Regions from separate parts of the Homo sapiens genome. Here region 2 is linked to region 1. Evidence: fine-mapped expression QTL. A gene starts in region 1. The other region holds a variant in brackets. All regions are shown on one strand. Distances are from middle to middle. Region 1 holds the start of APBB1 (amyloid beta precursor protein binding family B member 1). Region 2 overlaps SMPD1 (sphingomyelin phosphodiesterase 1).

Region 1 (4,386 bases):
ACCTGTTGCTAGCACCAAGGACAGTACCTCATACATAGTAATTATTTGATGAAAGAAAATGAATGAATGAATGAATGAGGACACTTTTGTTCTTCTGGGTAATTCTTCTTCATCTTTCAAGAACCCAGGTCAGATGTCATTTCCTCCAGGTGAGATGCAGTCAAATCTGATTCGTCTTTAGATCCCTAGGGCCTGGCTTGGGACCTGATACATGGTTCATATATCATAGGCATTTGTCAAATCATTATAAACTATTGGTTGTGAATTCATAATTGTTGAAACTGAATGATAGGTATATGAGGGTTCATTATATTGTTCTGTCTGCTTTAGTATATATTGGAAATTTGCCATAATAAAAAGTTAAAACATTTATATTTACCACAAGTAAAATAAAAGTATATTCAAAGATGACTTTGAAGCTTCTGGCTTGGGAAGCCAGTAGTTGGTGTCATTCATTGGAATGGATGGAATGGAGTTGTGTCCAGTGTGGGATGTGTGTTGTGTTGTGTGTGTTGAAGAGGGTTCTTTTTCACCCCAGTGAAACTCCTTAAAAGACTAATAAAGGGGGATGAAACAATAAATTGAGGCTGGACACTGTGTCTGACGCCTGTAATCTCAGCACTTTGGGAGGCCGAGGTGGGAGGATCGCTTGAACACAGGAGTTCCAGACCAGCCTGGGGAACACAGTGAGACCCCCTCTCTACTAAAATACAAAAAGCCAGGCGCGGTGGCACATGTCTGTGGCCCAGGTACTCCGGGGGCTGAGGCGGGAGGAATCTGAGCCCTGGAGGCTGAGGCTTCAGAGAGCCATGATCTTGCCCCTGGGTGACAGAGTGAGACCCTGCCTTGAAAGAAAGAACGAACTCAGATTTGGATATCTTTAGTTTTAGGCACCTGAGAGGGATTAGCATGTAGAGGCTTTCTGGATGGTAATATAACCTCTCATTATCCTTGATGGCCTCTGGGTCACTGATCTGACCATTGGGATGTATCCCACTATCCAGGGAGGGTCTGTAGTAAGTATTGCACCCCACCATCTTCCTTACATCTTTACACTTTTCATTCACAATATCCCCTTCCTTGTGAATTTCTACCGGGGAGCAATGTATTCTTGACATTTTCCAGGCCTTGATGTCAGCTTTATGCTCAGCAGCAGAGGTATTTCAGTGTCAAGAAACATCGGAGTTCCAGTCTAAATTCATCACTAACTGTGACTGCGGGCAAGTCGCTTTACCTCTCTTAATCTTAGCCTCAGCCTCTGAAAAATGAGGATAATAATTCTGGTGATTTTACAGAGCTGATGTGAAGATTAATGCGCGTTAACGGTTTAATAGAGAGCCCGGCACGGTGTAAGTGGTCAATAAATACGAGCTATTATTATGAGCAACGCTGTGTCCTCAGAGCCTCCCCACCAGGACGTCAGGGAGCGGTGCAGCAGGAGCGGCGCAGAGTGCCTCCCGGGAATCCTTCCCCGCGCGGCCGCGGCGCCGCACAGCCGCCGCCATTCGGGCTCCAGCCCCGTCCGCGCGTCTCCCGGCGTGGGTGCGGGACCAGGGCGCTGCGGGGCGCGCAGGGTGAGTCTGTGGAATAGTAGTGGAGGACGGCGCCGCGCTAGGCGGGGGTCCCAGGGAGTCGGCTGCAGGGGTGTCTGCTGGGAGGGCTGGACCGCGGGGCTCACCGAGGTCCGAGGGCCGCCCGCAGGGTGAGGCCCCCAAGAAGCTGCGGCAAGTGCCGCGCCCGCCGAGCTCGCTCCCGCGCCCGCCCCAAGATGGCGCCCCTCCCCCTCCCCTTGCGCGCGCCTCCGCCGCTCGGGGCGCGGCCCCGCGGCCCGCGCGCTCCTGGGCGGGGGATGTTGTGATGGAGAAGCCGCGGCGGAGCCCGAACCCCGCAGCCTGAGCCACCTCCGTCATCTGGGCCCGGGGCCTCACCGCGCAGGTAGGAGGTGTCCCTGCCCCGGCCCAGCCCCGGTGGCTGCGTCCCGATCACCAGCGGCCGGCGGACCCTGTAGCCCCTACCCTGCGGCAGCCCGGGTCCCCCGGCCGGCCCCATCCCCCATCCCCGGGTCGCCCTTCCACCGCGCGCCCGCAGACCGTCCTCTCATACCCACCATCGCAGGGTCCACTCGGGCCCTCACACCGTCCCTTCCGCTGCCCTTTACCTCCTGCCCCTCGGGGTGACTAGGGGCGGGTATGGAGGACGCGAAGCGAGGGGCAGTGGGTGTTGGGGGAGGGGAGGCCCAGGTCCGGGAAGGGGACGTGGGGTGGGGTGGGCTGGCAGGCCGCGCCGATTCCAGCAGGGGTCCCAGGCCCTGGATCTGTCAAGCCGCATTCTGTTGCCCTCAGCGACCGAGGGGTGTGCCCTGGGGCGGCTGTGTCCCCAGCTCAGCCAGGAGGCCTAGCACTGCCAAGAACACTGATTAGAAGCAGTTTTCCCACTGCCAATTCCTAACCTGTTTTGTATCGGCCTGTGTATCTCTTGCATTCTGAGCCCCTCTAGCTATAGTCCCAGCTCTCTCCGCCCTTCAGAGTCAACGCTTGCTGTCTTCATTTCCTTACTTCCCATTCATTCTTAAAAGCACTCCACTCTGTGTCCCTGACACCCACTGAAACTGTCTAGGCCAAGGTCACCGGAGACCTCCTTGTGGAGAACTCCAGTGGACACTGTTATCTCCTTTACCTTTGAGTAGTATTCGGTGGGGTATGTCAACTCACTCTCCTTGAAGCATTTTCCTGCTTTCTGCCCTACAGCATTGTCTGCTCTTCTCAATCTCATTTGCTTCCTCTCCTCCTCTCTTTAGATGCTGGTGAGGCTCTTGGCTCTGTCCCGAGCTGTCTTCTCTCAGTATCTGTTCTTTCTCCCCAGATATTTTATCTACTCCCAAAGCTTCAAATTTCATATATATGCTAATGATTCCCAAATTTATATATCCAGCCCAGACTTCTTTCCTGAAATCCAGACTCATATGTCCAGCTGCTCTCTTGACATCTCCTTGAAAGACAAACAGGAGTTCCAAACCTATAGATTCCAAGCTAAATTATCTTCTGTGGTTTTCTCTGTACCCCACTTCCAAATCTGTTCTTCCTTCGAATCTCAAAAATGGCTCTTTGCCAATCTGGAGTCATGAGCAAGACTTGAGATTAACCCCTCTCTCACTCTCTGCATCTCATTTCACCAAGTTCTGTCACATCCACTGCCTAAATATTTCTCAAATCCATTCATTTCGCTCTTTCCTCACTGCCACCAAAGTTAATCTGGGCCACCACCATTTTTTTTCCTTGACTACTTTAATAGCATACCCTCTTGCCTACCTCCCTTTAACTGTTCTCAACACAGTACCCAGAGTAATCCTTTGAAAAATGCTTCCAATCACTTATTCATGCAATAAATATGATTTCAGCACCTAATATATGCCAGGCACTGTGTTATGTCCTGAAGATATAATTGTGAGCAAAAGAGACTGAGTCCTTGGAGCTGACAATCTAGGAGAAAAATCAAATAAGAATAACATTACAAATGTAATATGTACCATGAAGAAAAGCTGTATGGTGCCTTGAGAACGCACAAGAGCAGTAGCTAAACTGGTCTCGGGGATAGGGAGAGAGGGTTGGAGGACAGCTTCTCTGAGAACATGACGTTTGAACTAAAATATAGTGGATGAGTAGAAGTTAATTCAGCTTAGAGAGTAGGAGAAGAGGTCCCAGGAAGCATGGAAATCACATGCAAACACCTTGTAGAAGGAAAACACATGTCTTCGAGGAATCAGAAGAAGGCTACTGAGGCTGCAGAGCAGTGTGACCAAAGCCAGGGGCAGGGAGGAGGAAGGCAGGCGCCAGACTGAGCAGGAAATTTAGGCCATGTTAAGAATTTGGTCTTAAGGGCCAGGCGTGATGGCTCACGCCTGTAATCCCAGCACTTTAGGAGGCCAAGGCGGGCGGATCACCTGAGGTCAGGAGTTCAGGACCGGCCTGGCCAACATGGCGAAACCCCATCTCTACTAAAAGTACACAAAAATTAGCCGGGCATGGTGGTGTGTGCCTGTAATCCCAGCTACTCAGGAGGCTGAGGCAGAAGAATCGCTTGAACCCGGGAGGCAGAGGTTGCAGTAAGCCGAGATCTTGCCACTGCACTGTAGCCTGGGTGACACAGCAGGACTCCATCGCAAAAAAAAAAAAAAGGGAATTTTGTCTTAAGGTCTTTGTCCTTGATGGTAGTGGATGTGGAGAGTAGATGAAGTCCAGAAATTTTTCTCAGAGAGGAAATCATCAGTACCTAGAGATGGATTGAACATAGCAAGTGCAGGAGAAGGACATGTCAAGATGTACCCCTACTTCAGATTCACAGAATAGGATGGATTCTATCATTCCATGAGCCGGGATCCTGAAAGAG
Region 2 (4,347 bases), 25 kb after region 1:
ATGCAGACAGAGGCAGTGCTGGGAGAGTGTCGGGTGCGTTTCCTCTCCTTCCTGGCCGTGGGCAGAGATGTCCACACGTTTGCATTCATCATGGCTGCCGGCCCAGCCTCCTTCTGCTGCCACATGTTCTGGTGCGAGCCCAATGCTGCCAGCCTCTCAGAGGCTGTGCAGGCTGCGTGCATGGTAAGCTACTAGTAGGGTGGTGTGGTGGTGGCGTGGCCCCATGGGAGGTAGGCTGGGGAGTGACTGCCCTGCTTGCCTCCGCAGCTTCGCTACCAGAAGTGTCTGGATGCCCGTTCCCAGGCCTCCACCTCCTGCCTCCCAGCACCCCCTGCTGAGTCTGTGGCACGGCGTGTAGGGTGGACTGTCCGCAGGGGTGTTCAGTCGCTGTGGGGCTCCCTGAAGCCCAAACGGCTGGGGGCCCATACCCCATGAAGAAGCCCCCACCTTCCCTCCACCTGCTTGTGTTGGGCCCCAGGGAACTAAAGGGTGTGGGTCAGGGAGGGGTCTAGAGGCTATTCCTAGGCCTCAGGCCTCCCAAATATGCCCCTCCCCAGTAGCTACGGTTCCCTGCCTAGGAGCTGGGGAGGGAGAGATCTAATCCCTTCAAGGAAGTGATAACACTGGAGTGGTAACAAGAGGAGCAGGAAGCAAGGCCAGCCCTGGTTCTCCATCCCCATGTGTTTCAGGTGGAACAGGAGGAACTGGTCCAGGCCAGGCCTCATCCTCCTGGACCCAGCAGGGGCAGAAGGAGGAAGGGACTGGTCCAGGCATGGGTCCCTTCCCCCTGCTCCATGGGCACCTCTGCTGTATTGATATCACTAATAAAGTCTGTCTGCACTGCTGTGTGCCTTCTTATGCCTGTACCACACCATCAACCCATTAGCCTGTGCCTCAGTTATGATCTTGCTCCAAAGATCTCCTTGCCCTGCTTGCCTGGAAAGAAGAAATTGGGACAGTCACACAGGGGTCTGGAGTCCAAGTCTCTTATCTTTATTTTAACAGACTGGCAGCATCAGGTCGCAGCAGCAGTACAGGGTTCCTGGCTGGGCAGCACAGGCCTGGGGCGACAGCTCCTGTCTTGTCTGCCCAGGGCAGTGTCAACTTAGGCCTCTACTCCATGGCTGTGAAAGGACAGCAGCCTCAAGGCAGTCTAGCTCCTGGGCACAGGCAGCCAAACCCCCTCCCATATCCAGCTAAACCAGCTCCAGGAAAGGAGAAGGTCCTGTTTCCCCGGCATCCTTGGGGCCCAGGGACTGGTTCTTTCACCGGATGATCTTGCCTGGTTGAACCACAGCAGCATTTGGGCTTTTTCACCCTTTCCTACATCAAGAACTTTCCCAAATGTGGGCCCTGGGGCCCTAGCAAAACAGTGGCCTTGGCCACAGGCTCTGGGCCTCTGGGAGGCTCCCATCTGGCATCAGGTGGCGGCACAGAGCAGGGCTGTCAGCACGGGCAGAGAGCTGGGCACAAAGAGTAGCCAGACGGCAGGGCGTGCCACAGGGCTCCGAGGGTGGGTGGCCCTTATGGTAGAGAAACCAGAAGGTCTGGAAAAGTTGCATGTCGCCCCGCATGCGATATACCAGGTTGTGCCAGGCGGTAGGCAGTGTGTTGGGCAGCCCATAGGTTTCTCGAGCCCTGTAGAGAAGCTGCCAGTGCGGTATGGCTCCCGGTATGTTTGCCTGGGTCAGATTCAGGATGTAGGTCTCATGGTCCAGGACCACGTGAGAGCTCCCGGAGTAGTTTCCATCTATTTGGTACACACGGTAACCTGCAAGGATGTGGGGCTGACTGGAGGGGCAAGGAGCAAGGGTAACTCCAGGGAGGGGCCACACATCCTGCCCATGCTTTGCAGGCTCTGGCTCCAACCTCCTTCCCCTATCCCACCAACTCCAGGATAAGGGAGGCTCCCTTCTGCCTCACTCACCAGGATTAAGGCCGATGTAGGTAGTTGCACTGGGTGCCAGGAAGGCTACAGCCAGCGGCCGGCTCAGAGTCTCTTCATCATAGAAGACCTCAAATTCATCCACATGAGTGTGGCCAAAGAACTGAGCAGCCAGGGTGTTCTCATACCTGGCCAGAAGGTACTACATTCAGAAGATTCTAGGGAGGGGTAGGAAGACATCTGGGGAGATAGGATGCCCTCTTTCTCCAACCTGTTCTAGTGAGGAGCCTCCCCACTCCATGGGACAACAGGGATGGTGAGATGCTCAAGGGAATTTTCAGCCTTCAGACACTCACCCTGTCCCTATTCCCACCCTCATCTCCGTCCTACCTGGCTACAATTCGGTAATAATTCCAGCTCCAGCTCTTCAGACAGTGCCCTGGGGGAATGTGGCCAATTATATGCACCTAGTAGGGAGAATTAAGGATGGTAATCAGGGCATCCAGGGGTCCAGGCAGCCCTGGCTAGAGAAAGGGGGACTGAATGAAGG[C/T]TTTCAACAGTGACCATGAGCTGAATCCCCAGGGAACACTTGTTGGGAATGCCAGGAAAATAAAACTTCTGTGCCCAGAGGTGCTCCAGCTCAACAGGAGCCTGCTTGTCCCCCAGCACCACCGTGTTCCCACTACTGGCCCTCACTTTGTCTCCTCGATCCTCAGCAGCCTGAAGCTCCCCCACCAGCCACTGGAGCTGTCCTGCGGGATCCGTGGAGTTGATCAAGAGCCAGAAGTTCTCACGGGAACAAAAATTCATATTGAGAGAGATGAGGCGGAGACCGGGGTATGGGGAAAGAGCATAGAACCCCCCAATTCTGAAACAAAGTAAACATGAGAGGTCAACACTTGTTCCAATCCTGGTCCTCCTGTGCTGGGCATTTGGGTGGAGGGTAAAAGCATACATGACATCTTCCCCACCTGCAAGGAGCTCACAGTCTAGCCAGAGACCAAACAGTTCTAATTATTGGGTCTGTGTGACACAAAAGACTCTGAGGGCAGAGGGCTCCAGGAGTATGGGGGAGGGATAAGAGTTAGCTAGAATGGGAAGCAAGGACCACACAGAGGGAAGATGACATGGGATGGATAAGGTGGGAAAAACTGGAGCACTTAAAAAAAAGGGGGAAATCATTTCCAGAGGGCCAACATGAGCAAAGACACAGCTGGGGCATAGAGAGGTTATGCTGCCAGACCTTTGAAGGAGGGTGGCTGGAGATAAGAGTAGAAAGGGAGGGCTGGAAAGCTGGGTGCAGTGGTTCATGCCTGTAATCCCAGCACTTTGGGAGGCCGAGGTGGGCAGATCATGAGGTCAGGAGATCAAGACCATCTTGGCCAACATGGTGAAACCCCATCTCTACTAAAAATACAAAAATTAGCTGGGTGTGGTGGCGTGCACCTGTAGTCCCAGGTACTTGGGAGGCTGAGGCAGAATTGCTTGAACCCAGGAGGTGGAGGCTGTAGTGAGCTGAGATGGTGCCACTGCACTCCAGCCTGGGCAACAGAGCAAGATTCCATCTCAAAAAAAAAAAAAAAAAAAAAAAAAAAAAGGGAGGGCCAGGAGCAGTAGCTGATGCCTGTGGTCCCAGCATTTTGGGAGGCCGAGGCGGGAGGATTGCTTGAGGTTAGGTGTTTGAGACCAGCCTGGGCAACATAGCAAGATCTTGTCTCTACAAAAACTAAACTAAAAAAAAAAAAAAAAAAAAAGCCTGGTGCGGCAAAACAGTAGAAAGGGAAGGAGGAGTCAGATTAGGGGAGCCAAATGAAGAGCACTAAGGACTCATGCTAGAGCAATCAGAGACAATGCCCCAGGTTCCCTTCTCCCTTCACTTTCATTCACCTTTCTTTTCCCTTCCTGGGTTTCCACGGACGATAAGTACCTGAGGGTGCGCAGGGCTTCGGCAGGCAGCCAGGGCTCCCAAGCCTTGGCCATCGCTTCATAGAGCCAGCGGGAGGAGTGGTTGCCCTCAATGAAGGGGGGAGGGAAGCTATTGACAGGTGTGCTTTCATGGTTACCCACAGCAGGGTACACTGGCACTGGCCCCAGGAACTTCCTCACAAGTGCTGTGACGGTGGTCAGGGCCCGCAGTTGGTCCTGACGAGTCTGGTGCCAGACATCATGTGCGGGGATGTCTCCTGTCCAGTACACCATATCAAAAGGGCCGGCTGGGCCCAGCCCACTCAACAGGCTCTCCAGGGTCCTCAGGGGCAGGTCACACTTGCTGTATTCGCCCCAGTATCCGGCACCTGGCCGGGATGCGGGCGGCAGGCCAGAACCCCGGCGGCAGCACAGTGGGTCTGCACAGTCAGGGTCCGTGCCCTCCAGGTAGTCATGATCCCAGTGCAGGTCAGTGAGGAAGAGGATGCGGCTGACAGGGGCACCTGGGGCTGGGGGGCTAGGGGGTTTGGGGGGCG

The links. PIP is the estimated chance that this variant, and not a neighbour inherited with it, causes the effect.
Region 2: its variant is fine-mapped to the expression of APBB1 in whole blood (TOPMed, PIP above 0.99).

What each region holds. Positions count from the first base shown.
Region 1 is chr11:6,416,534-6,420,919 of GRCh38, reverse strand. APBB1 (amyloid beta precursor protein binding family B member 1) reads left to right here and starts at 1,826. Exons shown (of 15, transcript NM_001164.5): 1 at 1,826-1,935. RefSeq lists silencers at 1,459-1,858, 1,869-2,058.
Region 2 is chr11:6,391,622-6,395,968 of GRCh38, reverse strand. SMPD1 (sphingomyelin phosphodiesterase 1) reads right to left here. Exons shown (of 6, transcript NM_000543.5): 2 at 3,813-4,347; 3 at 2,582-2,753; 4 at 2,276-2,352; 5 at 1,928-2,073; 6 at 973-1,771. The coding sequence ends at 1,362. APBB1 (amyloid beta precursor protein binding family B member 1) reads left to right here. Exons shown (of 15, transcript NM_001164.5): 14 at 7-183; 15 at 268-844. The coding sequence ends at 435. Among named protein-coding and RNA genes, the nearest start is that of SMPD1, 3.3 kb to the right of the region's middle. The variant C/T (reference allele first, on the strand shown) is at 2,436.